Linked DNA regions of Homo sapiens. The protein of the gene in region 4 purifies or fractionates together with the protein of the main gene of each other region. This does not show direct contact. Each region holds a gene or a part of one and is shown on either strand. Other genes may lie near its edges. The genes, in order: DBT, HSDL1, TRMT2B and PPTC7.

Region 1 (7,020 bases), on a different chromosome or scaffold from region 4:
ATCTGATCTTTGACAAACCTGACAAAAACAAGCAATGCGGAAAGGATTCCCTATTTAATAAATGGTGTTGGGACAACTGGCTAGCCATATGCAGAAAACTGAAACTGGACCCCTTCCTTACACCTTATACAAAAATTAACTCAAGATGGATTAAAGACTGAAATGTAAGACCTAAAACCATAAAAACCCTAGAAGAAAACCTAGGCAATACCATTTAGGACATAGGCATAGGCAAAGACTTCATGACTAAATCACCAAAAGCAATTGCAACAAAGCCAAAATTGACAAATCAGATGTAATGAAACTAAAGAGCTTCTGCACAGCAAAAGAAACTATCATCAGAGAGAACAGGCAACCTACAGAATGGGAGAACATTTTTGCAATCTATCTATCTGACAAAGGGCTAATATCCAGAATCTACATGGAACTTAAACAAATTTACAAGAAAAAAACAAACAACCCATCATAAAGTGGGCGAAGGATATGAACAGACACTTTTCAAAAGAAGACATTTATATGGCCAACAAACATATGAAAAAAAGCCCATGATCACTGGTCATTAGAGAAATGCAAATCAAAACTACAATGAGATACCATGCCAGTTACAATGGCAATCATTAAAAAGGCAGGAAATAACAGATGCTGGAGAGAATATAGAGAGATAGAAACGCTTTTACACTGTTGGTGGGAGTGTAAATGAGTTCAACCATTGTGGAAGACAGTGTGGCGATTCCTCAAGGATCTAGAACCAGAAATACCATTTGACCCAGCAATCCCATTACTGAGTATATACCCAAAGGATTATAAATCATGCTACTATAAAGACACATGCACATGTATGTTTATTGCAGCACTATTCACAATAGCAAAGACTTGGAACCAACCCAAATGTCCATCAATGTTAGTTAGACTGGATAAAGAAAATGTGGCACATATACACCATGGAATACTATGCAGCCATAAAAAAGAGTGAGTTCATGTCCTTTGCAGGGTCATGGATGAAGCTGGAAACCAGAAAACCAAACACTGCATGTTCTCACTCATAAGTGGGAGTTGAAAAATGAGAACACATGGACAGAGGGTGGGGAACACCATACACTGGGGACCTGTCGTGGGGTCTGGGGCTAGGGGAGGAATATCACTAGAAGAAATACCTAATGTAGATGACGGGTTGATGGGTGCAGCAAACCACCATGGCAGGTGTATACTCATGTAACAAACCTGCACATTCTGCACATGTATCCCAGAACTTAAAGTTAAAAAAAAAAAAAAAAAAGAAATAATAGACTTTCTAAGATAAACTCAGAAACTTAAAACCTACAAAAGGAGGGGAAACCTTAGAAATGGTTACTCTTCATTGTGTTTAGTCCCTGAATTTGCTTAAACTCCATTTTTCAGTTATCTAATACATGTACCTTAATTGATCCAAGGGCCCCAATGGCTACTTCAGGTGGCATTATCACTGGTTTGGCAAAGGTACCACCAATCTATTTTTTAAAAAAAAAAAAAGGAGAGTATTAAAAGTTAAGATTTTTCAGGGAACAAATGCCAAGTGACTTTTCTATTTTTAATTAAGCATATGATCAGAAACCTTAAGTAATGGTTTATGTATTTCAACATTATTACTCACTGATCCAATGTTGGAAAGAGTAAATGTTCCTCCTGTAAGATCAGTGGTGCTGAGCTGACTCACAGAGCCCAATTTCTGGAGGCGGTTCAGTTCAGTGGCGATGTCAAATATAGAGCAGATCTGAACATTTTTCACATTAGGGACAATCAAACCCTGCTCAGTATCCATTGCTATCCCAATGTTATGAGAAGCCTAAAAAATAAAAAATTGTACAGTAGGGCTTTTAATGAATAAGCTAACAGCAAAGAAAGGATCAACCTTCACTGCCATCTAGAAACCACTACCAAAACTCATTTTTACCAGATTGGTAGTGATTTAAAAGAAATAATTTAAAAATAATTTTTAAAAGATTTTTTGGGCTAGGCGCAGTGGCTCATGCCTGTAATCCCAGCACTCTGGGAGGCCAAGGTGGCTGGATTACCTGAGGTCATGAGTTCAAGACCAGCCTGGCCAACATAGTGAAACCCCATCTTTACTAAAAATACAAAAATTAGCATGGTGGCACAGGCCTGTGATCCCAGCTACTCGGGAGGCTGAGGCACGAGAATCGCTTGAACCTGGGAGGTGGAGGTTGCAGTGGGCCGAGATTGTGCCACTGCACTCCAGCCTGGGAGACAGAGTGAGACTCTGTCCAAAAAAAGATGATAATTTTTTATTGATAAGAATGTAGGCAATAGGCTATTTCCCAACATCGTTAGTGGGAATGTAACTGGTACAGGTTGAGCATCCCTAGTCCAAATATCTGAAATCTGAAATGCTCCAACATCTGAAACTTCTGGGGGCTGAAATGACGTCATGTGATGTAGCCAATTTCCTTGAAAACTGATTTATCACCCTGAGTCAAGATCCATCTTCAGAATTCTGTATACTGACAAATATAGAAATGTAAAGATTTTATTTTCAATTTATTGGATGGATTAAGCACCTCAGCATTCCTTACTATGTGATAAAATACATATATAATAAAAAGTATATTCAATATTTTGTCCTTAAACATTATGCTGCATAGTTGTTGAAACAGTTCTCATTTTATAATATTTAATCATATCAGAGCCCATCAATAAAAAAAAAAGAGAAAAATGCAGCCATTGTTCTGGCAGGGCATAGTGGCTCATGCCTATAATCCCAACACTTTGGGAGACTGACACAGAAGGATTGCTTGAGGCCAGGAGTTTGAGACCAGCCTGGGCAACATAGCAAGACTCCATCTCTACAAAAAAATTTTTTTTAATTAGCTACAAAAATTTTTTTTTAAATTATGGCACATGCCTATAGTCTCAGCTACTTGGGAGGCTGAGGTGGGAGGATCATTTGACCTCAAGAGTTTTAGGTTACAATAAGCTATGATTATGCATGGGTGACAGAGCAAAACTCTGTGTCAAAAAAAGAAAAAAAAAAAACTTTGTGGCCGGGCACAGTGGCTCACGCCTGTAATCCCGGCACTTTGGGAGGCCGAGGCGGGCGGATCACGAGGTCAGGAGATGGAGACCATCCTGGCTAACACAGTGAAACCCCATCTGTACGAAAAATACAAAAAGAAATTAGCCAGGCGTAGTGGCAGCCTCCTGCAGTACCACCTACTCAGGAGGCTGAAGCAGGAGAATGGCATGAACCCAGGAGGCAGAGTTTGCAGTGAGCCGAGATCGCAGCACTGCACTCCAGCCTGGGCCACAGAGCAAGACTCTGTCTCCAAAACAAAAACAAAAAAAAACAAATCCAACTTTGTTTCATGCACAAAAATGTTAAAAATATTGTATAAAATTACCTTTAGGCTATGTGTATGAGGGGTAAATGAAACATAAGTGAATTTCATGTTTGCACTTGAGTCCTGTCCTCAAGATATCTCCTTTGTATATGCAAATATTCCATAATCCAAAAAAATCTTAAATCCAAAAACGCTTCTGGTCCCAAGCATTTCAGGTAACGGATACTTAAACTGTAGAGACTTTCTGGAGAACATATGACAACATGAACCAACATTTATAAAAATTCGTGTTAAGGAACTAAGTGCAGAAGTATGTAGGGATACACAGGGATGTTGAGTACACACTGTTTATAAGTTTGAGAAACTGCAAATAATCATGATGTTTATAAATAGGTCACTGGCTAAATAAATAACAAAGCTATACTTGTTGACAATGATGTCTACAATATAGTAAATGAAAATGAAGAGGCTGGGCACAGTGGCTCATGCCTGTAACCCAGCACTTTGGGAGGCTGAGGTGGGTGGATCACTTGAGCCCAGGAGTTAGAGACCAGCCTGGGCAACATGGCAAGACCCCATTTCTACAAAAAAAAAAAAAAAGTACAAAAATTAGCTGGGCATGGTGGCACGTGCCTATAGTCCCAGCTACTCAGAAGGCTGCGGTGGGAGGTGGACACTGCAGTGAGGCGATGATTACACCACAGCATAGATATTCTCTATGGGGAATACTTTAGATAGGCAACAGAGCAAGACTCTGTATCAAAAAAAAAAAAAAAAGAAAAAGAAAAAAGCAAGTTAAAGAAAATATAAATAATTCTATATCTTGTAAAAAGTATGTAAAAATGAAATCCTAGAAAGATGTATATCTCAACATAAACAGTGAGCTATCTTAGGGTCATGGAATTGAGGGTAAACATCTTTGTTTTCTTTTTTCTTTTCTTTTCTTTTCTTTTTTTTTTTTTGACAAAGGCAGGGTTTCACTTTGTCACCTAGGCTGGAGTGCAGTGGCATGATCACAACTCACTGCAACCTCCATCTCCCAGGTATCATATGATTCTCCTGCCTCAGCCTCCCAAGCAGCTAAAACTATAGGCATGCACCACCATGCCTGGCTAATTTTTTTTTTCTGTAGAGATGGGGCCTCCTAACTTTGTTGCCCATGCTGGTCTTGAATTCCTAGGCTCAAGCCATCCTCCTACCTCTGTCCCCCAAAGTGCTGGGATTACAGGCAGGAGCCACCACACCCGGCCAACATCATTTTCTTGCCTGAAATTTTTTTAATAAGTATATACTTAATCAGGAGATATTAAAATTAAAATTAATACAGCTGACTGTATTAACCGTATGGGAGCTGACCTCCCAGAATATCTAAGCTCACTTTCTGGTTGTACATGTCTTTTCTTTTTTTTCTTTTTTTAATTCTCTTTTTGAAATGGAGTTTTGCTCTTGTCGCCCACGCTGGAGTGCAGTGGCACAATCTTGGCTCACTGCAACCTCCGCCTCCTGGGTTCAAGCAATTCTCCCACCTCAGCCTCCTGAGTAGTTGGGACTATAGGCGCTGGCCACCACGGCTGGCTAATTTTTGTATTTTTAGTAGAGACAGGGTTTCACCATGTTGGCCAGGCTGGTCTCAAACTCCTGACCTCACATGATCCACCCGCCTCAGCCTCCCAAAGTGCTGGGATTATAGGCGTGAGCCACCGTGCCCAGCCTCTGGTTGTGCACTTCTAATGATAAGTAAACTTCAGGAAAGGCATCTCAAAAAGAGTTTTCGGTCTTAAGAAACTTTCACTACTCACAGAAGAGTTTACTCAAATTGAATTCAAACTTTTATTATTTTTCTCACTTAAATTATTCTTAATATTAAAATTCCAGGAATTTGCCAGGCACAGTGGTTCATGCCTGTAATCCCAGCACTTTGGGAGGCTGAGGCAGGAGGATTGCTTAGACCAGAAGTTCAAGACCAGCCTGGGCAACATAATGAGACCACGTCTCTACAAAAAATTTAAAAATTAGTTGGGCATAGTGGCGCATGCCTATAGTCCCAGCTACACAGGAGGCTGGGGCAGAAGGATTGCTTGGGCCTGAGAGGTTGAGGCTGCAGTGAGCCACAATCACAACACTGCATTCCAAACTGGTGACAGAGTGAGACTCTGCCAATAATAATAATAATAATAAGAAGAAGAAGAAGAAGAAGAATAAGAATAATAATATTAAAATTCCAGGAATTCAATTTTGAAAGAGCTGCTTCTTTTTGAGAGGGTAAGTAGAGTGGGTAACATAATCTGCCATACAGCTATGTATTTCCATTATTTTAAGCAGGAAAAAAAAAAGCTTAAAAATAGTTTTAAGAATCTCTAAACAGTATTATTAACACAAAAACAACAACAATGAATTAGACTTAAGTTTAATGTTTTACCCCATACCTTTAATTCTAGTCTAAAAAAGATCACTATTTGAGGTACAATAGAAGTCTCTAATCTACAAGCACATTTGCCCCATCTTCTATTAATAATAAGAACATTTTTACTCTGCATAGCCAACCTTATATGTTATATTCTGGCAGTTTTCATCCACAGAAGCGTTAAGGATAGGAAACTGTAGTAATCCCAAGGAAGCAGCCTGTTTAACAGAAAAAGAATGCAATTTTAGTACTTTTAACTTAGAAAGGATAGAGAATTTGAAACAATAAGAGGTATAAAAGGAGGGAGAGAGAGAACTCTTATTTATGCTGAGTTTAATTTCAAGTCTACATGTACCTAGTCACATTACTGCCAATGTTACCTTCAGGCCATGTGGAACTAGGTCACCCTAATCATTAAAGAATAAAAGATAAAGTAGTCAGGTAGCTTGTAAACATCAAGGAGATTTTCAAAATAATGATACAGACCAGCCAAAGTTCCAAAGAAAATGTCTAAATTCTAGGTGATTTCCTCACTGACATGTTGATCTTAAGATTTCCATGAGAAGTAATACTAGGAATCAAAACACAAAAAAAGCAGGTAAGCTATTTCTCTGTGTGGAAAGAACACGTAACGAGGATTTCAAAGCGCACTGACCAGTAGATGCCAGTTTGCTACTTGGTGTCCTTGGCCAGCTGAAGGGCAGAGATGTCCTGAACATTTACTTTACAGCTCAAGTCTCACTGAATAGCATTTATATTTTCCCTCTCTGCTGCCTTCTCCCTTTTGTCACTTAATACCATTTCTCTCCTGTCCATATTCAGATTTCCCTAACTGTACCCAAAATGTTCTTGATAATCTGTTTTTGGGATCTAATAATCAAGTTTCATACCTTACATGTGGTGGCCATGCATTGTATTGAATTTAAAAGATAGCAAAATAAAAATGCTTAAGATCATTCTTAAAAAGAATTCCCTCCCCCACTGCCCTTGTCTGGTCCCTGTTAAAGTTCTTTACATGCATTGTGTTATTCTTCTCAGTGCATCGGGGTCTTGATGGGAAAAAAATCAAATTCTTGAACTAGAGAGTTAAGAAAAAAGTTTAAATATATAGAGACATTTCATTTTCATTAGTTAGGACAGGTTAAGAGAGTAGATCAACTGAAGAAAAATATAATTAAAAGAACTGCTACGAGTTCCTTAATTTTTATGACTTGGAAGTTTTTCTTGTTTGTTTTTGAGACAGGGTCTTTCTTTGTCACCTAGGCTGCAGTGCAGTGGCAT
Region 2 (7,583 bases), on a different chromosome or scaffold from region 4:
ACCTGCCTTGGCCTCCCAAAGTGCTGGGATTACAGGTGGGAGCCACTGCACCTGGCTGAATGTCTTAATTTTGAAAGAGACAAATATATCAATCTTTCTGCTTTAGGGTTTGTTTTATTTCAGAAATCCCTCCTTAGCCTCAGGTCATGAAGAAATTTTTTCGAATTATTTTCTAGAAATTTTACATTTTTGCTTTTTCAGTTTAAGTCTTTAATCCTCCTGGCGTTTTGTGATGGTGTGAGGCTGGGATCTCACACATCTTTTTTTTTTTTTTTTTTTTTTTGAGACAGAGTCTCACTCTGTCACCCAGGCTGGAGTGCAATGGCGCGATCTTAGCTCACTGCAACCTCCTCCTTCCAAGTTCAAGCAATTCTTCTGCCTCAGCCTCCCAAGTAACTGGGACTACAGGCGTGTGCCACCATGCCTGGCTAATTTTTGTATTTTTTTCTTTTTTAGTAGAGACGGGGGTTTCACCATATTGGCCAGGCTGGTCTTGAACTCCTGACCTTGTGATCCGCCCACTTTGGCCTCCCAAAGCACTGGGATGTGACCGGCCGGATCTCACACATCTTTAATATTCCTCCTCAGCACCTGACATGCTGCTGTAGACAACTTTATTTAATAAACAGAATCAAATACTGCTTTGTGTTCAAAGCTCAAATTTCACTCTTGAGAAAAAAACTTAAGCTTTTCATACTCTGCGTCAGCACTATGACAAAGTTAGCATTGGTGTATCAAGACTTTTTGGGATGTCTTTACCTTCACTGCCAATTTTTGGTATAGGACTAAACGCACAATGAAGCTGAGCCTAAAGAGCAGCAACATGGAATTAGAAACCTGGATTCTCATCCAAGATCCAACACTCTTCACCATCATGTCTGTATTTATGCAGTAAGAATTAAAATATTCAGAGTACCCCACTCCTAGGCAGATACCCAAGATAATTAGAAACTTTTGCTCACATAAAAACTCCTGCTTGCATGTTCACAGTGGCCTACTCACAACTGCCAGAAGGCAGAAACAAACAAAATGTCCATCAACAAATGAATGAATAAGCAAAATGTGGTGTTATCCACACAAAGGAGTATTATTCAGCCATAAAAAAGCATGAAGTACTGATACATACTACAACATGGATAAACTTTGAAAACATTATGCTAAAGGACAGAAACCAAATACAAAAGGCCGTATGTTGTATGTTTCCACTTGTATGAAATGTCCAGCATAAGCAAATCCATAGAGACAGAAGATAACTTAGGGCTGCTGAGGGACAGGGGGAGAAAAGAGGTATGACTGTTAATGGGGTTGGGGTTTCTTTTGTAGGTGATTAAATGTTCTGGAATTAGTTACTGGTGATGGTTGCATAGCATTGTGACTATAGCAAGAACTACTGAGTTATACACTGTAAAATGGCTAAAATGATAAATTTTATGTCATGCGTAAGTCATTTCGATTTTTGAAAACCTACTTTAAAAAAAAGTAGCACCAATATGTTCAACTCTGTTGCCCTAGAATATTCCAGCAGTGATTAAAACCACAAACTTGGCCGGGTACAGTGGCTCATGTCTGTAACCCCAGAACTTTGGGAGGCCAAGGCGGGCAGATCACTTGAGGCCAGGAGTTCAAGGCTACCCTGACCAACACAGCGAAACCCCGTCTCTACTAAAAAAAAAAAAAAAAAAATTAGCTGGGTGTGGTAGAACGTGCCTGTAATCCCAGCTACTCGGAAGGCTGAGGCAGGAGAATCACTTGGGCCCGGGGTGCGGGATGGCGGGCAGAGGTAGCAGGAGCTGAGATCGCAGGCACCATTGCACTACAGCCCGGGCGACAGAGCGAGATTGTCTGAATCAATCAATCAATCAACACCCTCCCCCTCCCCCTCCCTCTCCCTCTCCCTCCCTCCCTCTCTCTCTCTCTCTCTCTCCTGTGGCGGTCAGAGTAAAATTGAGAGCTCACTTTATGCAAAAGACTCTGCTAAGTGCTTTATTCCTATTGTCTCACTTTATTCTCTCATTAATCTTATAAAGCGCAGTCAGACTCTCCCGTTTATAGATGGGGAAATTGAGTCTTATAGATGTAAAGTCGCACACCCAAGACCCCACAACTCAGAAAGGGGCTACCTGCAATTCAGATGGAGGTATAGCAAGGCGCAGAGTCCTGTCCAGGGAGCCCACTGTGAGACCCCCCGACTGCCTCGCAGTCACCTGTACACATCATGTTGGGATCGCCGAGGGGCGCTGCAGCGATCCGGTTTCTGGGGCTGCGTCTGGGTGGCACGTTCAGAACGGGGACCTGCCTGGTTCTTCTTCCCAGCCCTTCCCCTCCAGCACCCGGCAAGGCCCAGTCAACACGAGCAAACTCGGAAATCCTGGCTGAACCCACGACCGCTGCATATTTCCATTTTAGAAAAACACGGCAACAACAACTCAAACCAAATCGTTCAGAAATGAGAATAAAGAAGCACCGACAAAGGAGGCGATTGCTGGGGCCGCTCGGGGGAGGAGCCGGGTGAGAGGCTGCAGGGAGGGCAGGGCATGCGCCGGCGACAACGGGGTTCGCGGTTTGGGGGGCAAGGCCCGGGGGAAGAGAGAGAACAGGGGTGCAGCGCCGCGGCGGGGGGCGTGAGGATGGAGCCGGGGGAAGGGGGGCTCTGAGATGTGAAGGGGCGGGGCTGGGGCTTTTTGGTCTGAAGGAAGGAGTCTCACGGGACGGAGGGACGAAGATTTCCTGGGGTCAGGGGCGCCAAGGGGCTTCGGGGCCGGATGCAGCGGAGGGGGCCCGGGGCCTGGGGGGCGTGGTGAGAGCTCAGAGGGGTCTCGCCAAGCAGCCGGCTGGCGCTGAGGGGACCGAGGAGGGGTCTGGGGCGAAAGGACCGCGAGAGGGCGCCCAGGGCGCGGGGGGCGCGGTACCTGCAGGCCGGCAAAGTCTTCCAAACCGGTCCCGCCAGACCCGCGCGGCCGCCGCCCCCGTCTCGGCCGCCGGAGCTGCTGCCGCGCCGCGCCCTCACGTGACCCGCGTACGCGCCGGGGGCGGAGCCGTCTCAGACCCGCCCCCACCCCCCGGCGTCCCCAGCGCGCCGGTCCGTCCCGAGTGCGCGTGCGCAGCGGTTGCCTGGGCGACCGGGGAAGCGTTGGGCTGTAAAGACTAGGGCGCCAGCGGCTGGCGAAGAAGGAAAGAGGGTACTCTCTGGCTGGGCTGGGGCCGTAGCGACGTCCGCCGCGAACCTGGGCCCCCCAAAGCTGCGGGGCGTTCGGTGTCGCCGAAGTAAACATGCACCCTGAGCCCTCGGAGCCTGCGACAGGTGGTGCAGCAGAGCTGGATTGCGCGCAGGAGCCCGGCGTGGAGGAGTCTGCGGGTGACCACGGGAGCGCAGGCCGAGGGGGCTGCAAGGAAGGTGCCGACTGCCCCCCAGGGAGGGCGGTGGGCGAGGGGCAGACACGGCTAGGCGCTCCAGCCCCCTTCCCACACCACATACCCGATCTTCACAGCCAAATAATAACAATAATAATAATGGTAGCAAGCAACGCTCTGCAGTAGGGGCTTCTCTCGCCATTTCGTACTGAGGAGGAAACATACTTAAGAGGTTACAAAACTTGCACCAAACAGATAACCCTCGGCTAGTCAGTGACAGAAGAGACTTGGCCGGGTGCGGTGGCTCAACGCCTGTAATTCCAGCACTTTGGGAGGCCGAGGCGGGCGGATCATCAGGTCAGTCAGGAGTTCGAGACCAGCCTGGCCAACATAGTGAAACCCTGTCTCTACTAAAAATACAAAAAATGAGCTGGGCGTGGTGGCGGGCGCCTGTAGTCTCAGCTACTTGGGAGGCTGAGGCAGGAGAATCGCTTGAACCCGGGAGGCGGAGGTTGCAGTGAGCCAAGATCTCGCCATTGCATTCCAGCCCGGACGACAGTGGGAGACTCCGTCTCAAACAAACAAACAAACAAACAAGCAAACAAAACCCACCAGACTCAGGCCCAGACAGTCTGGGTCTCCAGAGCCCCAGCCCTAACCCACCACGCTATTCTCCCTGGTCCCAACTTTGATGCTTTAAATGTGTCCCTTTATTGCTATCACTATGTAAGATCAAAGGCTTTCTCTCCCTCCAGACTGCATGTTGTGTCAGGGCAAGACATCTTGATTGAATTTGGAGTCTAGTCCAGTGCCTGACCTAGGGTAGAGAGTCCGAATGAAGACTTGGTTCTGGGGTCAGTGTGTGATCCCCTCACCAAAGTTTGCCAGAATGGACTTGAAAGATAACCTTCATGGCCAGGCACGGTGGCTCACGCCTGTAATCCCAGCAATTTGGGAGGCAGAGGCAGGTGGGTCACCTGAAGTCAGGAGTTCGAGACCAGTCTGGCCAACATATTGAAACCCTGTCTTTGCTAAAAACACAAAAATTAGCAGGGCGTGGTGACGTGCTCCTGTAATTCCACTTACTTGGGAGGCTAAGGCAGGAGAATTCCCTGAACCCCGGAGGCAGAGGTTGCAGTGAGCCAAGGGGGAGGCTGAGGCTGCAGTGAGCCAAGATCACACCACTGCACCCCAGCCTGGGCAATGGAGCAAGACTCCGTCTCAAAAAAAAAAAAGGAAAGAAGGAAGCCTGGCTTCAGCTTCTGCTCCCACTAGACTTGGTGCCCTAAAGGAAACCTTTTAGTGATTACATTAAAAAACCACTTGATTTGTGTTCCAGTTTCTGAACGCAGGCAACAAATAAACCAGCTGATTTGTGTTCCAGGCAACAAATATATCTTAAGCATCAACTGTCCAGATGAACCTTGTATGAGGAGCCATAGGGAACTGGCATTACTCAGTGGAAAGACACTGGTCTTGGAGCCATTGACACTGGGTTCAAGTTGAGGCTCAGCAGCTGGCCAGCTTTATGGCTGTTGGCCCAGAGCTTAACCTCTCGGAGCCTTAGTCTCCTCATCTGTAAGCTGGAATAATTATACAGGAGTATAAGGAGAGAATTATAATTAAATGTCCCAGCATATAGTGGGCCATTATTAAATGGTAGCTCTTGTTATTAATTACATATTAATATTTATATATTGAGCGCTTATTCTTTATTTTTTCCACAAACATTTATCTGTTGCTTCCTGTGGCTGGGCATTCTATGCAAAATTGATGAGTTTAAGAACCAGTCCCCACACGCACAGCCTTTAGTCTTGTTCAATAGACCACACAAACACAGAAAGCAGCAGACAACAGCTCTTAAAGTTAAGTGCGGTTGAATTGGCCAATTTTGAATGACCTTTAAAAAAATTATTCATTTGAATGTGCTCATGTTATTGTTATCATAGATATTCTCACTATTTTTGTTTCTTTTCATGTGATTTTCCTTTTTATGATTTTTTTTTTAAGAGATGGAATCTCACTATGTTACCCAGGCTAGATCTTCCTGCCTCAGCCTCCTGAGTAGCTGGGACTACAGGCATGCTCCACTACACCTGGCTTCAGAAATTTTTTAAAAGACAAAAGAACAAAGAACATTAAAACAAATACCCGTGTTTTGCCAGCAAGAATTGAAAATGAGTAACATTTTATCATATTTATTTGAAGTCTTTTTTAATTAAAGAAATAAGCCCCCCCCAAAAAAAAAATAAAAATAAATAAGGGTGGGCACGGTGGCTCACGCCTGTAATCCCAGCACTTTGGAAGGCCAAGGCGGGTGGGTCACCTGAGGTCAGGAGTTTGAGGACAGCCTGGCCAACATGGGGAAACCCCGTCTCTACTAAAAATACAAAAAAATTAGCTAGGCATGGTGACAGGCGCTGGTAATCCTAGCTACTTGGGAGGCTGAGGCATGAGAATCGCTTGAACCCGGGAGGCGGAGGTTGCAGTGAGCTGAGATCCCGCCACTGCACTCCAACCTGGGGGATAGACCAAGACGGTCTCCAAAAAAAAAAAGAAATAAAACATTTCACATAGAGTTGGTGTTCCTTTTCTCCCCTGTACCCCACCCCGTTTCTAATCCCATTCCTTTCCTCCCTTGTCCAGAATTTTATATGAATTCTTGCAAGCACTTCTCTATACATGTATGCCCTGAAACAGTGTATAGTATTGCTTTGCATATTTTTAATTTATATATGGTATCCTGTGCTTATTTTGAAACTTGCTTTTTTCACTCCATATACGTTTCTGAGAATTATCCCTATGGATAGATGTAGTTCTAGTGCATTCTTCTCAAAGGTAGAAAAGCAAGTCATTGTTTTATGTAACCAGCCCCTATGGATGGACATTTACGTTGTTAACAGTTTTTGGCTTTTATAAAAAAAAACGCAGAAACAAATCTCTTTGTCCATGTTTTCTTGTGCACCTGTACAAGAGTTTTTATAGAGGATCTACCTAGAAGTGAAATTTACATAGTCTTTGCCAATGCTTTAAAAATTGTTACACATTTAAAGATTACTGTTCTCTCTCTCTCTCTTTTTTTTTTTTTTTTTTGGTGAGACGGGGTCTCACTTTGTTGCCAGGCTGGAGTACAGTGGTGTGAACACAGCTCACTGCAGCCTTGACTTCCCAAGCTCGAGTGATCAACCTGCCTCAGCCCCACAAGTAGCTGGGAATACAGGCACGCACCACTACATCTGGCTAATTTTTGTAGAGATGGGGTTTTGTCATGTTGCTCAGGCTGGTCTCAAACACCTGGGCTCGAGCAATCTACCTGCCTCAGCCTCCCAAAGAGCTGGGATTACAGGCCTGAGCCACCATACCCAGCCACTAAAGAATACTGGTGTTCTATACTAAAAGTGGATGGTCATTAACCAAGCTGAAGTTGGGGGTATTTTTTGGCATATATCTTGATCTCTACAGACCTGATCTCTTTTATTTTACAGAAATTAATGATCCTAAGGAAATATGTGTGGGTTCTTCTGACACATCCTACCACAGCCAGCAGAAACAGAGTGGTGATAATGGGTCAGGTGGTCACTTCGCACACCCAAGAGAAGACAGGGAAGATCGGGGCCCCAGGTATGTGGGCATACTCCTAATTAGTGCACATTTATGGAGTAAGGTAGATGGCGTAATCACCCCCTTGTACGGATAATGAAATAGAGGCTGGTAGAGATTGAATTGCCTGCCCAATGTCTGAGAATGGAGTGAGGATGGCACTGCCTCTGCCGCACAGCTGAGCGCACATTCTATTAAACTTTAATGCCAGACTGCAGAGAGGAACAGCAGTAGTTCCTCATGACACCATTTAAAGTATTTTTATTAGAACATACAATGCAATTTTTAGGCCGGGCGCAGTGGCTCATGCCTGTAATCCCAGCACTTTGGGAGGCTGAGGTGGGCGAATCACAAGGTCAGGAGTTCGAGACCAGCCTGCACAATATGGTGAAACCCCATCTCTACTAAAAATACAAAAAATTAGCTGGGCGTAGTGGCGGGCACCTGTAATCCCAGCTACTTGGGAGGCTGAGGCAGGAGGATCGCTTGAACCCGGGAGGCGAAGGTTGCAGTGAGCCGAGATCATACCACTGCACTCCAGCCCGGGCGGCAGAGTGAGACTCCATCTCAAAAAAAAAAAAAAAAAAACATACATTGCAATTTTTAAGAATGCTGAAAATAAGCCAAGCGTG
Region 3 (7,173 bases), on a different chromosome or scaffold from region 4:
ATACACACACATAGACACATAAATTTTCTGACCCTCTACATGAGTGCCTGCTGGAGTGTAGTGAGGTTATGGCCTGTGCTGGACTACCTGTTAATACTCTCAAAAGTGTGTGGCAGCCGGGTGCAGTGGCTTACAACTGTAACTCCCAGCACTTTGGGAGACCAAGGCAGGAGGATTGCTTAAGGCCAAGAGTTTGAGACCAGTCTGGGCAACATAGCGAGATCCGGTCTCTACAAAAAGTTTTAAAAATTAGCCAGGTGTGGTGGCACACACCTGTAGTCCTAGCTACTTAGGAGGCTGAGACAGAAGGATCACAAGTCCAGCAGTTGAAGGCTGCAGTGAGCTATGATTGTGCCATTGCATTCCAGCCCGGGAGGGAGACCCTGTCTCCAAAAAAAAAAAAAAAAAAAAAAAAAGCCAGGCGGGGTGGCTCAGGCCTGTAATCTCAGCACTTTGGGAGGCCAAGGAGGGTGGATCACTTGAGGTTAGGAGTTCGAGACCAGCCTGGCCAACACGGTGAAACCCTGTCTACCAAAAATATACAAAATTAGCTGGGTGTGGTGGCGCACGCCTATAATCCCAGCTACTCAGCAGGCTGAGGCAGGAGAATTGCTTGAACCCGGGCAGAGGTTAAAGTGAACCGAGATCATACCACTGCACTCCAGCCTGGGCAAGAGACTCCTTCTCAAAAAAAAAAAAAAAAGTGTGTGGCCTGTGAGAATGTACGTATTCGATATGGAGGATGGCAAAAGCCAGAGAAAGGAAATGAATGAAGAGGCAAGAGACATAAAGAATGACATGGTGGGTCTGAGAAGGCCAGTGGCCTTGAAGCCCAGACTACAGGGGAAGGGAGTAGAGCTGATCCAGGAGAGGGGTCCTGTCCCTCCAGTCAGCAGGAAAGTCAGGAGGAAGGAAACTGCAGGCCCATTTGAGGATTTGCAGAGGAGGGACAAGGAAGCTGGGGAATTTGAAGATAGCTATTCCCACCCCAACGACATTTAGACTTTTTTGTGAGTGTGTGGGTCCTCTCACTGGTGACTCTGCCATGACTGTAGTTCATTTGCCCTATACCCCAGCAGGAGGGTCCTTGTCCATCTAGGTCTCTTCCAAATTATCAAGTATGGTTTAAAACAGGACCTTATTATTTCAAGGTGCCAACCAGCCATCATTCTAGGTAAAGAGCCTGTCATATTTAGTAACTTCTGTGGTGAAATTTCTTTTTCAAGGCAGCACACTCATACTAGTCAAGGTGAGTTCTGTTTCTTTCTTAATGTCAGGGGAGACATTTGTTCACAGAAGAGACTATTTTCTTTTTATATTTTGTCCTGTTTTAAATAAGTGCTTGGGGCCAGGTGCGGTGGCTCACGCCTGCAATCCCAGCACTTTGGGAGGCCGAGGCTGACAGGTCACCTGAGCTCAGGAGTTTGAGACCAACCTGACCAACATGGAGAAACCCTGTCTATACTAAAAGTACAAAATTAGCCGGGTGTGGTGGCGCACGCCTGTAATCCCAGCTACTCGGGAGGCTGAGGCAGGAGAATCGCTTGAACCTGGGAGGCAGAGGTTGCGGTGAGGCGAGATCACACCATTGCACTCCAGCCTGGGCAACAAGAGTGAAACTCTGTCTCAAAAATAAAAATAAAAAATAAAAAATAAATGCTTGGGGGCCAGGCTCGGTGGCTCTCGCTTGTAATCCCAGCACTTTGGGAGGCCGAGGCAGCCGGATCACAAGGTCAGGAGTTCGAGAGCAGCCTGACCAACAGAGTGAAACCCAGTCTCTACTAAAAATACAAAAATTAGCTGGGCGTGGTGGCAGGCGCCTGTAATCCTAGCTACTCCAGAGGCTGAGGCAGGAGAATCACTTGAACCCGGGAGGCGGAGGTTGCAGTGAGCCGAGATCGCACCACTGCACTCCAGCCTGGGTGACAAAGCTAGACTCCGTCTCAAACAAATAAAAAATAAAAATGCTTGGGAGTTTTTTCCTCAGCAAAAAAAAAAAAAAGCGTGTGAGCAGTCGTGCTCGACTGTTCTATACCTGCCTCAGGAATTGATCAGGAAGAGTCCTGGAGTCCAGAGTAGCCCAAATAGGAAGGCAGGCTAACTCTCCTGTGCTCAGAGAGGTTCAAATCAAAGAGACTATGTGGTAGGTCTCACCTGCGCAGGGCCAAGGATCCCTTTTGGAGCAAAATGTTCACCCACCGACAAGGGTCCTGCTTGCACTCTCTGCTCACCCTTCCTTCAGCTGGACCGGCTCCAGACACTATTCCTTGCTAAACCAAACAAGCAAATGGGTTGACTGCTGTGTCGTGTCCCGAATGCAGCCCACAGGCAGTCAGGTCCTTGTCTCCCCAACAAGACTCCACTAGCCCTTCCATTCCCTTCTTCTTTAGGCAAGTTCTGCCCACTGTGTCTGTAGGAAGGGTTAACAAAGAGGAGACACTAGGAAAGGCTACCACTAAACTTGGCCGGTCTGCAGGGCCCGGGAAGGACAGAAAGTAAGGGAGTGGGAGGAGTTAGGGCACAGGCCCACGCTGGGCCGTACACGACCTTGCGCAGTCACCGTCGGGTCCCGTCTCCAGCCCCGCCTGCCTCCTCCATTCCCCGCCCCGCGGACAGTTTGGCATAGTAGGGAGTTTTCTGTAAAGCAAGGGTTAAATCAGGTTTTCCGGGCTATTTATCCACCTTACCTTCCTTCGTAACCAATAAATCCTCTTACAAACCTGAGGCGGCAAACTAAAAGGCCAGCGGATGGCCTGGTTTGCTGCGGCGGGGAAACAGTCACTTCCTGGTGCGCAAGGCGCCTCTACTCCCGCCGCACGCGCAGCCAACCCTTGGCAAGCGCGGCGGGACACGGGGCTCCTCCCAGCGTCGGCGAGGCAGCAGGCTCCGGCACCTCGACTCCTCTCGGGGAGTACCCCTCCCTACTTTGCTGGGGGAACCTTCTATGGAGACCTTCCTTAAAAGCACTCATAGCCCTGACACCCGCCGCCTTCCTTCTCTAAGTTCTCCTCTCCTCCCCTCCCCGGGGCCCCGCCCACCACCTGCTCTTTCCTCACCGTCCCATTGGTGGATCTACATAAGAGACTCACGAAGACGTTCACACTGCAGTGTTAACTGCGTTAGCCATCCCAGGGGTGCTTGCAGTTTAAGTCTTCCAACTCAAGGAATAGTTTTCTCATGATAGAATTGCAGACATCAGATCCCTAACGGGTTGGAAGATTGGGAGATGAGAAACAGGGTGGTTCCGTGAAATGGCATCCTTTGGTAAAAGCCAGATCTATTCTGGGCCGTGGGGTTTCTCAAGCATTCATTCTCTTTTAACACTGCATCAGAAAAATACTTTATAGTTTCTTCACTGGATCCCACTCAAGACTATTAAATCCTAAACCCTCAGAAATAATCTTTTTCTTCAACTACAGAACTCAAAAAGAGGACAGATGTCTCTTTTTGGTTGATTCACTACCTCCTGGACTACATTCAGTAATACCTCTAATTTTTAGAGGAGTCATTAGCCCAGCCACGAGTAAGAAAACTTGAAGTATACACACATCTGTGTGCTGTAAAATATTGTTGCTTTAATAGAGTAAAATTTACAGCAAAGTGAACCTACCGAGGTGGGTGCAGTGGCTCACGCCTGTAATCCCAGCAGTTTGGGAGGCCGAGGCGGAAGGATCACCTGAGGTCAGGGGTTCGAGACCAGCCTGACCAACATGGTGAAACCCCATCTCTACTAAAAATACAAAAATTAGCTAGGCGTGGTGGCGCACGCCTGTAATCCCAGCTGCTCAGGAGGCTGAGGCAGGAGAGTCACTCGAACCCAGGTGGTGGAGGTTGCAGTGAGCTGAGATCATGCCATTGCATTCCAGCCTGGGCAAAAAGAGTGAAACTCCGTTTCAAAAAAAAAAAATAGTGAACGTACATTTAATGATATTTAATTTTTATGCTTAATAGTAATTGTGCTCAAGTGGAAAACACTTTGTAGTCAACATTTCATGTATTAATATTTATTCAAAGCATAACATGCCTATTATGTGCAAGGCAATGTGTTAGCCTTAGTGAGTACAGTAGTAAATTAAACAAGGCCCAATACTTCAAATAGCAGCAAACATTGAGTCAGTCAGAATAGGATTCAAAGCCCAGATCTGCCACTTATTTTCTATTTTTCTGTTTTTTGAGACAGAGTTTTGCTCTTGTTGCCCAGGCTAGAGTGCAATGGTGTGATCTCGGCTCACCGCAACCTCCGCCTCCCAGGTTCAAGCGATTCTCCTGCCTCAGCCTCCCGAGTAGCTGGGATTACAGGAGTGCACCATCACGCCCAGCTAATTTTTGTATTTTTAGTAGAGATGGAGTTTCACCACGTCGGTCAGGCTGGTCTCGATCTCCTGACCTCAGGTGATCCGCCTGCCTCGGCCTCCCAAAGTGCTGGGATTACAGGCATAAGCCACCACCCCCAGCAGATCTGCCACTGATAAGCTGTGTCCACTGAGCAAGTTATTTAATTACTCAGTGCTTCAGTTTCATCATCTGAAAAAAAATGTCCACAATAATTTTACCTACCTCATACGGTTGTGACAACGATTAAATGAGTTAATACACACAAAGTGCTTAGAATACAGTAAGTACACAAAGTTAGCTATTATCATTCAAAATAAGTTGATATACTGTGTGTTCATACATTCTGAAGAAAATAAAAATATTTTACCCCAAAATAAATGTATTTGCCATATGTTTGAAATGGCTGCCTCAGGACCAGAGGACTGAGATGGGGGAAATTTGCATCTGTAGAGAACCTCCTTGAATACAGCCAAGCTTCCCATTTCTATGCCTTACCTGGATCCAGGAGAGATTGAGAGTCTGACATCTTTAAAAGTTTGAAAAGAAGCATTTACCAGCTATTCTTTCGGAAGGAGGCTTCCTCTACATGACAAGGCCACCTTCACAAACCAAGTCTCTTCCTTTCTTCCATAACCTATCTTGCCACTAAAACCTGTTTTTGTATATACTCTGAGTTCGTCCACATTCTTTCTGTAATTTCTTACTTTTTTTTTTTGAGGTGGAGTCTCGCTCTGTCACCCAGGCTGGAGTGCAGTGGCGCGATCTCGGCTCACTGTTGCAAGCTCCGCCTCCCGGGTTCATGCCATTCTCCTGCCTCAGCCTCCCAAGTAGCTGGGACTACAGGCGCCCGCCACCACGCCTGGCTAATTTTTTGTATTTTTAGTAGTGACGGCGTTTCACCGTGTTAGCCAGGATGGTCTTGATCTCCCAACCTCGTGATCCACCCGCCTCGGCTTCCAAAAGTCCTGGGATTACAGCCGTGAGCCACCACGCCCGGCTTTTTTTTTTTTTGAGATGGAGTCTCGCTCTGTCACCCAGGCTGGAGTGCAGTGGCGCGATCTCGGCTCACTGCAACCTCTGCCTCCCGGGTTCGAGCGATTCTCCTGCCTCAGCCTCCCTAGTAGCTGGACTACAGGCTTGCACCACCACGCCCAGCTAATTTTTGTATTTTTAGTAGAGACGGGGTTTCAACATGTTGGCCAGGATGGTCTCGATCTCTTGACCTCGTGATCTGCCCGCCTCGGCCTCCCAAAGTGCTGGGATTACAGGCATGAGCCACGCCTGGTCTCTTTCTGTAATTTCAAGATGATATATAAGCTTCTGTTAATTATTGGGAGGTTGGGTCTCCATGATGAAGGCTCCCATGTGTACATGTTAAATAAATTTGTATGCCTTTTCTCCTATGAATCAGCCTCATATCAGTGATATTTTAGTGAACCTTCAGGGGCCAATGACTTTGGCCCCCACAACACACACACACACACACACACACACACACACACACACAAACACACACGTGTATGTTTCTTGTTTTTTAAAGAGAGATTTCACTTCCATCCTAAACCCTTGAGGAGGTAAATGTTTGACTCAAATTGCCACTATCCTAACTGCTCTCATGGCTCATAAGCAAAATTTGAACTCAAACCACTGCTTCAGCCTTCTAGGCCCATGCAGGGCTATCAAGTGAGACCAGGCCAGAGAATTTACCTTTGGCTCTATTTTCCCTTTCTCATCTTTTAATCCCCTCTTATATGGCTAGACAGCTCTACACCTTTTATCACCTCCTCTTCCCCTTTCTTCCCCTTCCCAAGCCCTTCTGCTCCTTTATCACTTCTCGTTTTGGCCTTCTGTGTTGTGCCTAGCACAGAATCAGGTGTCCCATACGAGCTCAATAAATATTAATATTTGATTAATTAAACTGAATTCCATCTTGTCTGCTGAAAGAGAGAAGGCATTTCCTCCCTCACCCCCACCTATTTTGAGCATCCAGGCAAATTCATTTAAAGCAGGCCTGTCATTCAAGGAGGAAAACCCTGAGGGGTAGAGAGAGAAAAGAGATTAAAGCAGCTATAATGTAATTATTTAGCCATTAACCCCTTTATATTTATTTAATCTGGTAAAGCATATTCTACTATAAAAGCGAAATCATTACATTTGTAAGAGGGGAAAGAAATACCCCGTATTATAGGAAAGGTTAGACCCTTCAACCAGAAAGTCAGTAAGTGGATATGTCATAGATGATAAGGAATATTGTTAACTCAAATAAGAGCTGGAACCAAGATAACCTTTTACTTAATTTTGTTATTAGCAAACCAAATCACAACAAAGTGAAATCCCTAGGAATTTGTCAAACATTCTCATTTTGGTGCAAGGAAAAGATAGCTGAGAGGCTACAGCATTCGCTCTCAGAAATAACATATTAAAATTTACCAAGCAGGAGCATCGCCATCTTGGACAAGCACCACAATTCTAAAGTTCTCCTTGATCAAAAACCACCTAAGGCCGGGTAAGGAGGCTCATGCCTGTAATCCCAGCACTTTGGGAGGCTGAGGCGGGCAGTATCACCTGAGGTCAGGAGTTCAAGACCAGCCTGGCCAACATGGTGAAACCCCGTCTCTACTAAAAATACAAAAAGTAGCTGGGCGTGGTGGTGCATGCCTGTAATCCCCGCTATTCAGGAGCTGAAACAGGAGAATTGCTTTTTTTTCTTCTTTTTTTCTTTTCTTTTCCTTTTTTTTTTTTTTTTTTTTTTTTTTTGAGATGGAGTTTCACTCTTGTTGCCCAGGCTGGAGTGCAATGGTGTGAATTCAGCTCACTGCAACCTCCGCCTCCTGGGTT
Region 4 (7,885 bases):
ATATCCCACTCCATTAAGAAGGTAGCCTTCCAAAATTTTATTGTATTTTTTTTGAGACGGAGTCTTGCTCTGTTACCCAGGCTGGAGTGCAGTGGTGTGATCTCGGCTCACCGCAACCTCCATCTCCCAGGTTCAAGCAATTCTCCTGCCTCAGCCTCGCTAGTAGCTGGGACTACAGGCGTGTGCCACCACACCTGCCTAATTTTTGTATTTTTTAGTAGAGACGGGGTTTTGCCATGTTGGCCAGGCTGGTCTCGAACTCCTAACCTCAGGTGATCCGCCCACCTCCGCCTCCCAAAGTGCTGGGATTACAGGCGTGAGCCACCACGCCCGGTCTAGCCTTCCAAAATTTTAAAATCAAGCTTCCATATAGAATTTGATACATTTAAATACTCCCCAAATCATCAATCAAGTCACGGATCTTTCACAAAAGTCGCATACAGATTTTTTATTTTATTTTTTTTTTGAGACGGAGTCTCGCACTGTCGCCCAGTCTGGAGTGCAGTGGCACGATCTTGGCTCACTGAAGCCTCCACCTCCCTGGTTCAAGAGATTCTCCTGCCTCAGCCTGTTGAGTAGCTGGGACTATAGGCATGCGCCATCACGCCCGGCTAATTTTTGTATTTTTAGTAAAGACTGGGTTTCACCATATTGGTCAGTCTGGTCTTGAACTCTTGACCTCATGATCCACCCGCCTCAGCCTCCCAAAGTGCTGGGATTATAGGAGTGAGCCACCACGCGCAGCCCAGCATACAGATTTATGAGGTGAACCTTAGAGGCTCATTATCCCCTATCCTATGTTATGAACACAACTTTAAGAAGCAACACAGGGGCCAGGCTCACACTTGTAATCCCAGCACCTTGGGCGGCCGAGGCGAACACGAGGCCGATCACGAGGTCAGGAGTTCGAGACCGGCCTGGCCAACACAGTGAAACCCCATCTCTACTAAAAATACAAAAATTAGCTGGACATGGTGATGGGCGCCTATAATCCCAGCTACTCGGGAGGCTGAAGCAGGAGAATCGCTTGAACCGGGGAGGCGGAGGCTGCAGTGAGCCAAGATTGCGCCACTGCACTCCAGCCTGAGTGACAGAGGTAGACTCCGTCTGAAAAAAAAAAACGCAGCACAGGTCACAAGCTCATTGAGTGAGGCACTTCTAAATGTATCAGGGAAGACAGCCACTGACAGCTGACTTCGGGGTGGATTTGTACAATTTCAATCTGCAAGCTGCAGGACCTTTCTAAGTCTCCCTCTCATGTTAATATCAATAGCGTTGCCTAAACATTAAATGCTTTTTCTTCAACCCAGGTAATGGGGTCATTCATAAATTAAACTGAGAACAACCTTTCCAGTCCCATGTTCACAAACACTACATGTAGTAGAACCAAAGATACTAGGCAATTATTCTGAGATCAGATTAAAAAATAATTACTGTCATAAAAAAGTTACAGAATCATTTGTTCCAATGCCAAACTCTGCCTCAGCATATGAAATTTAAAGTAACCAAAAACTTAGTCTCACCTGGGAAGGGAAATCAAAGTGACATTTGAACCCAAGTTCAATGACAACACGTCCTTCAATTTCAAAGCGAGCGCATTGCTTTATTCATTCAAAGAGTTTTAACGGCACAATATCCCATAGCATACACAAAATCTCCTAAGGCGTACATTATGGTAAAGTTTCTGACTGCTTGTGAACTATATTTAGCCCTTTCTGCCAGCTCTCTCCGTAGTCTCCCACCCCCAAAAGGTATAACTGGAATAGGCCTCAGGGAGCACCTGTGGCCTGAAAAGGCTGTGACCAATCCTCAGAGCTTTACCGGCTGCAATCTACAAGTAGGCTCGACCATTCTATTTTGGATCAAGGAGACTCTGCCAACCCCCAAGTGACCGCAAGTGGACAAGATCAATTTGGGAGAAAACGCTGTGAGGGTTTTTTCGCCAAGCCAGCAGCCCCCACCGCCACACTCCGAAAAGGGTGAAGATTTGGTTACCATCCAGGCGGCGAAAGAATACGGCCGGGCTGTCTGGGGGCTCACGACTGCCTGTCGGCCGGCGATCCCGCAGCCTGGGCCGGGCTGTGGTGTCGGGAGCACGCGAAGAGGCAGGGATCCCCGGGGCATGCGGAGAGGGAACCAGAACGAGGTTAGGAGCCTGCAGGTGTCGCCCAGGGAGGGGACGAGGTCGCCCAGGGCTGGCACGGCCGAGTGAGACCGAGAGTGTGGCTCTGGACTCGGACAGACCGGTCACACTCTCGGGTTGTGACCTTGAGCACACGACTTGACCGCTGTGCGCCTTAGTTTCCTCCTCTCTAAAATGGGGGTCGTTCAAGCGGAAAACGCGCCTCGGAGCGCTTGGCACGGCGCCTGGCGCATAGTAAGCGCTCCCTCCATGTGAGCGCTCTGGCTCCTTTCGCCGCCGGGAGGAACTGGGGAAGCCCCGCGCGGGGAGTCCCCGGGAGGCGGATCCGAGGCTGGGGCAAGGGAACCGGGTCGGGGACTCACCGAGCACGTCCGCGGAACGGTGCCGGGCCACGAAGCACGCGTCGTCCCCGTAGCACGCGCCCTTCTTGAGGAGGCCCTTACGGAAGTCCTTCCCGAAGCCGCAGCCGGCCGTCACCAGTCCGTAGTCGCCGCCGCCGCCGCCGCCGGCCCTGGGGTCGGTCTGCGAGAGGCCGCCGAGCACGGCGCGGGCCACCAGCCGCCCGTACGAGAGGACCGAGAACATCGCCGCCGCCGCCCCCCCGAGGAGGCGGGGGGCCGGGGGAGCAGGAGGACGCGGAGGCCCGGAGCCGGCTCTCTCCTCAGCCGCAGTCGCGCCGCCGCTGGGGCGCTCCTCAGGGCGGCGCGCAGTGGCCGCCGCCGCCCCTGCCCGACGCGCGGGGCCTCGCACGCGCTCAGCCGCGCGCACCGGAGCCAGAGCGAGGTCAGAAGCGGCGGCTCCTCCGCCTCAGCCCAACTGAAGTCCCGGCTGCAGCGGCCGCCGCCGCCGCCGCCATCTTCCGCTCCACTAGCGTGTTCCGGGCGGTGCCGGCAGCACCGCCCCCTCCCTGGCCCTGCCCCTAGCCCCGCCCCGATTCACCGCTCAGGCCCAAGCCCAGCCCCTTGGGCTCGCTGCCTTATGCAGTCACCAAGGTTGAACATGCGCAGAGGGTGCGGACGCAGTGTCTCTTGGGAATTATAGTCCCGGAGTCGTAGTCACTTTTGACTTGGCTGCCAAAGATTTAGGACCTAGGGGGATTCCTCAGACGCGGGACCTATGTTAAGTTAGTAGGAATTGCAGGTGGGCCACGTGAGGGTTTTCTACCCTGTTTTAACCGTATCTTTTAAAGCCTGTTTTAAATAAATAACGCCACCATTCCTTTAAACAAAAACCTGCAAGAAACCAGAATGGAGTCACATAATGAGAAACAGAGGTACACAGATCTAGTGACACCTCCCCAAGTAATATACTGGAAGGATTTAGGGCGGCAAACTGTTTGGAAAGAAGAGACTTTTTGTAGTCTTTTAGGAAAAATTGAGAAAATGTTATGTGTCCCTATCAGAGTGGGAGGGGACACAGATGGTGTCATGTCCCTTTTGCTAACTGGCCTCTAGCCATGCTCACAGCTGTCTCAAGACCTTTGCCCTTGCTTTCGCTTCTACCCTTTGGAATGTAATTCGTTTACCTGAGGGTCCTGTGTTTTCTGTTGCTGTATCCCCAGAACACGTGAGCACCCAGTAAATATGTGAATGAATGAAAGAATGAATGAATATTTCACTAGATTCTAAGTTTCCCAAGGACAAGGATCATTTGCTGCTCAATTATTAGAATCTAAAGCAATGCCTGGCACACAGTAGGAGAGTGTGTAAATGTCTGTGGAATAAAAGAAGGAATAATGGGCTGGGCGTGGTGGCTCACACCTGTAATCCCAGCACTTTGGAAGGCCGAGGTGGGCAGATCACTTGAGGTCAGGAGTTCAACACCAGCCTGGCCAACATGGTCTCTACTGAAAATACAAAAAAAAATTAGCTGGGCTTGGTGACAAACGATTGTAATGCCAGCTACTCAGGAGGCTGAGACAGGAGAATCGCTTGAACCTGGGAGGCAGAGGTTGCAGTGAGCCGAGACAGCGCCACTGCATTCCAGCCTGGGAGACAGAGCTGGACTCCATCTCAAAAAAAAAAAAAGGAAGGAGTAATGGAATAAGAACACAAATGATAAAAGAAAGTCATGTTTGTTGAATACAGGAATGATTGAGTGAATGGGGTTCACAAACAACAGAAAATGAGCTTTGGGGCAAGTAATTCAATTTAGAGTAATTTTTAGTTTGATTGAAACATATATTTCTCAGAAACAGCAGTCTTTTTCTAGTTCACTTTTAACAAGACCATTGTTACTTTGGGGATTCCCACCTCGTTTTTAAATGGTCCTTTTTTATGCTTTCTTAATATATTTAAAATGCTGCCAACTATCAACTCAACACATATTATTCCGTTATCCTAATTACTGTCATCATTAAACACTTTTGCAGTTCACAGTGTGCCAAGTACTGTCTATATATATGTTTCTGTCTTTAAGAGCTTTCATCAAAATTGGACGGAAGAAATGACTTCACGTAGTGGCATTTTGTCAAATATACAGAACCCAGAAAATGTTCATTTACTGGATAAATGGTATAGTAATGACAATAATGCATTCACACCTTCCTTTTTTTTAATGGCACAAGAATTGGAGAGTGCCCAGAAGAGGGGGTAGTGCCTCTCGGAATCCTCTACTTGGCATTTATATTGCTGCCAGCTGTGCTAAAGGTAGCTCTTTCAAGTACACATACCACTACCAGATCCCAGTCAGTCTGGCAGGTAATTCTACCCCAAGGACAAACTTTTTAAAATAGCATGTCAACCCTATTTCTTGCCTCGTCAAACTCCTTCAGACTGCTCCTACTTTTCCTTTTCAGGGCATATATTACCTAATTTCCATGTCAGTCACAAGAACTGGTTTGATGGGATGAGTAGGAACCTAAAATGTGACTCTAAAGCCAGTAACTTCTGCTCCGATGGGGCTGCTGTTTTCATGATTAAGTGATACCAGTGCCTTGAGTTTCCGGCAAATGAATTTCCTGCAAGTGAGTTTCCTGCAAATGAGTTGCCCACAGAAGCACGTGGCGAACAGAATCCTTCTCAAAGCTCCTTTGCAAGTTTTAAAGGAACAGGAGATAGGGCCTCGGGTTCTCTTGAATCATTTATTCCAGAGCCAGCTCTGAAGTTTCATCACCATGGGGGAAGCCAGGAGAGGGTACTTTACAAAACACCTCCCTTCCCGTTCCTTCTCCCAGGAACACAATTCACGTTTGACATTTTGTTGGACTTAAAAAGGCCTGGATTTTCTTCCTTAACAGAGTTACATTCCTAGCACTTCAGGGATTCCTGAGAGGTCAGTTGCCACTCTTAAAGGTGAACAAGTGTGGTGAAAATACCATCTGGGCTCCCAGGGCACCTCTATGACATTAGGAAAGAGCTTTGCACTAAAGTCAGCCTCCGCTCCTAAAAAAACCAAACAAACAACAACAACAAAAAGAAGGCATGACATTTCCTAGTGAGATTTTCTGCCAGACTGGTAGGTTGATCTCTTTGGGTTCCTTTTTGCTAACCTATTCACAATGAGCACTAATTAGCTTACAGCAAGGTGTCTCAAGCTTGACACTATTGACATTTTGGGCAGGATGATTCTTTGCTGTTAGGGCTGTCCTGTGCATGCGTTGGAGGGGGCTTAGCAGCATCCCTGGCCTCTACCCACTAGAAGCCAGAAGCATGCCACCTCTGTGCCCCCAGGACAACCAAAACTGTCTCCAGATATTGCCAAATGTCCCCTGGGGGGCAAAATTGCTCCCTGATTTAGAGCCACTGTATTACGGCAATGCCATGCAAATGAGCAAATATTTGTTGAGCACTTATTATGTTCAAGTCTCTAGGCTAAGGATAAAAAAAATCAGTGATTTTGTGGCAGTCACAGTGCAGTAGGAAGGTTAAAATTAAGTAAATGTATTAAAATAATAATAACAGACTGGGTGCGGTGGCTAATGCCTGTAATCCCAGCACTTTGGGAGGCCGAGTGGGGGGTGGATCACTTGAGGTCAGAAGTTCGAGACCAGCCTGGCCAACATGGCGAAACCCTGGGTCTACTAAAAATACAAAAATTAGCTGGGAATGGTGGTGCACGCCTGTGATCCCAGCTAGTTGGGAGGCTAAGGCAGGAGAATCACTTGAACCCGGGAAGTAGAGGTTGCAATAGGCCAAGATCACGCCACTGCACTCCAGCTGGGGCAACAGAGCAAGGCTCTGGCTCAAAGTAAATAAATAAAATAATAATAAGCACCACAAGCTGAAATAAAGGAGGGGTCTGGGAAGGGGAAATGAGACCCTCTGGGGTTAGAGAACACCTGGGGCACTTCACAAAGACATGACATTTGTGAGAGGCCTGAACGGACAGACAAGTCTCTCTGTCTGTCATGCGGCATAACCAGCTCAAGAGGAGGAAAAGGATATTCAATGAATGCAGAATGTGATTGGAGAAGAGCAATGCAACCTTAGGATCTGAAAAACGAATAATAATAAATGGTGGGGCTGGGCCAGGTGCAGTGGCTCACGCCTGTAATCCAAGCACTTAGGGAGGCCAAGGCGGGTGGATCACTTGAGGTCAGGGGTTCCAGACCAGCCTGGCCAACATGGTGAAACCCCATCTCTACTAAAAATACAAAAATTAGCCGGGCGGTAGTGGCGTGCACCTGTAATCCCAGCTACTCGGGAGGCTGAGGCAAGAGAATCACTTGAGCCTGGGAGGCGGAGGTTGCGGTGAGCCAAGATCATGCCACTGCACTCCAGTCTAGGTGACAGAGTGAGACCCTGTCTCAAAAAAAAAAATGGTGAGGCTAAGAGCTGGGCAAGCTGGCAAGTGCCTGTAGTCCCAGTTACCTGGGAGGCTAAGGTTATAGAGTGTCAGGATGGAGCCTGTGAATTGCTACTGCACTCCACCCTGGACAATGTAGTGAGACCCCATTTCTAAAACAAACAAAAGCAGTATTTTAAGGAGTCAGACACAAAATACCACATACTGTATGATTCCATTTATATGAAATGTCCAGAATAGGCAAATCCATAGAGACAGAAAGTAGATTAGTGGTTGCCAGGGACTTGGGGAAGGGACAAATGGGGAGTGACTGCTCATGGGTACAGGGTTTCTATTTGGAGTGGTGAAAATATTCTGGAAGTAGATAGTGGCAATGGTTGCACAAGTTTATAAATATATGAATAATCGCTGAACTATACACTTTAAAAAGGTGAATATGGCCGGGCATGGTGGCTCATGCCTGTAATCCCAGCACTTTGGGAGGCCGGGGCAGGAGGATTGCTCGAGTCCAGGAGTTCAAGACCAGCCTGGGCAACATAGTGAGACCTCTTCTCAATAAAAAATCAAAAAATTCCTGTAATCCCAGCACTTTGGGAGGCTGAGGCGGGCAGATCACGAGATCAGGAGATCGAGACCATCCTGGCCAACATGGTGAAAACCCGTCTCTACTAAAAAATACAGAAAAAATTAGCTAAGCATGGTGGCCCGTGCCTGTAATCCCAGCTACTAGGGAGGCTGAGGCAGGAGAATCACTTGAACCAGGGAATCAGAGGTTGCAGTGAGCCAAGATTGCGCCACGGCACTCCAGCCTGGCGACAAAGCGAGATTCCATCTAAAAAAAAAATTTGGCTGAGTATACTGGTGCACATCTACAGTCCCAGCTACTTGAGAGGCTGAGGTGGGAGGATTGCTTGAGCATGGGAGGTCAAGACTGCAGTGAACTGTGATCGTGCCACTGCACTTCAGCTTAGGCAGCACAAGTGAGACCCTGTCTCA

What was found.
Region 1: the proteins of PPTC7 (region 4) and DBT purify together in Homo sapiens (affinity purification with mass spectrometry; 2 studies listed by BioGRID and IntAct, with this or other methods). This does not show direct contact.
Region 2: the proteins of PPTC7 (region 4) and HSDL1 purify together in Homo sapiens (affinity purification with mass spectrometry; 2 studies listed by BioGRID and IntAct, with this or other methods). This does not show direct contact.
Region 3: the proteins of PPTC7 (region 4) and TRMT2B purify together in Homo sapiens (affinity purification with mass spectrometry; 3 studies listed by BioGRID and IntAct, with this or other methods). This does not show direct contact.

The regions. Positions count from the first base shown.
Region 1 is NC_000001.11:100,204,815-100,211,834, forward strand, and holds part of DBT (lipoamide acyltransferase component of branched-chain alpha-keto acid dehydrogenase complex, mitochondrial isoform 1 precursor), read right to left. Parts: intron 6,311-7,020; exon of another isoform or gene 6,226-6,310; intron 5,958-6,225; coding exon 5,880-5,957; exon of another isoform or gene 5,879-5,879; intron 1,823-5,878; coding exon 1,631-1,822; intron 1,488-1,630; coding exon 1,416-1,487; intron 1-1,415. UniProt on the Homo sapiens protein: The branched-chain alpha-keto dehydrogenase complex catalyzes the overall conversion of alpha-keto acids to acyl-CoA and CO(2).
Region 2 is NC_000016.10:84,142,171-84,149,753, forward strand, and holds the start of HSDL1 (inactive hydroxysteroid dehydrogenase-like protein 1), read right to left. Parts: upstream 3,008-7,583; 5' UTR 2,910-3,007; intron 1-2,909. Other genes in the region: DNAAF1 (dynein axonemal assembly factor 1), read left to right, coding at 3,271-3,394, 6,837-6,972.
Region 3 is NC_000023.11:101,049,097-101,056,269, forward strand, and holds the start of TRMT2B (tRNA (uracil-5-)-methyltransferase homolog B), read right to left. Parts: upstream 3,016-7,173; 5' UTR 2,721-3,015; exon of another isoform or gene 2,688-2,720; intron 2,641-2,687; exon of another isoform or gene 2,638-2,640; 5' UTR 2,155-2,637; intron 1-2,154. UniProt on the Homo sapiens protein: Mitochondrial S-adenosyl-L-methionine-dependent methyltransferase that catalyzes the formation of 5-methyl-uridine in tRNAs and 12S rRNA. Catalyzes the methylation of uridine at position 54 (m5U54) in all tRNAs.
Region 4 is NC_000012.12:110,580,304-110,588,188, forward strand, and holds the start of PPTC7 (protein phosphatase PTC7 homolog), read right to left. Parts: upstream 3,016-7,885; 5' UTR 2,729-3,015; coding exon 2,506-2,728; intron 1-2,505. UniProt on the Homo sapiens protein: Protein phosphatase that plays an essential role in mitochondrial metabolism and biogenesis. Positively regulates biosynthesis of the ubiquinone, coenzyme Q. Dephosphorylates the ubiquinone biosynthesis protein COQ7 which is likely to lead to its activation.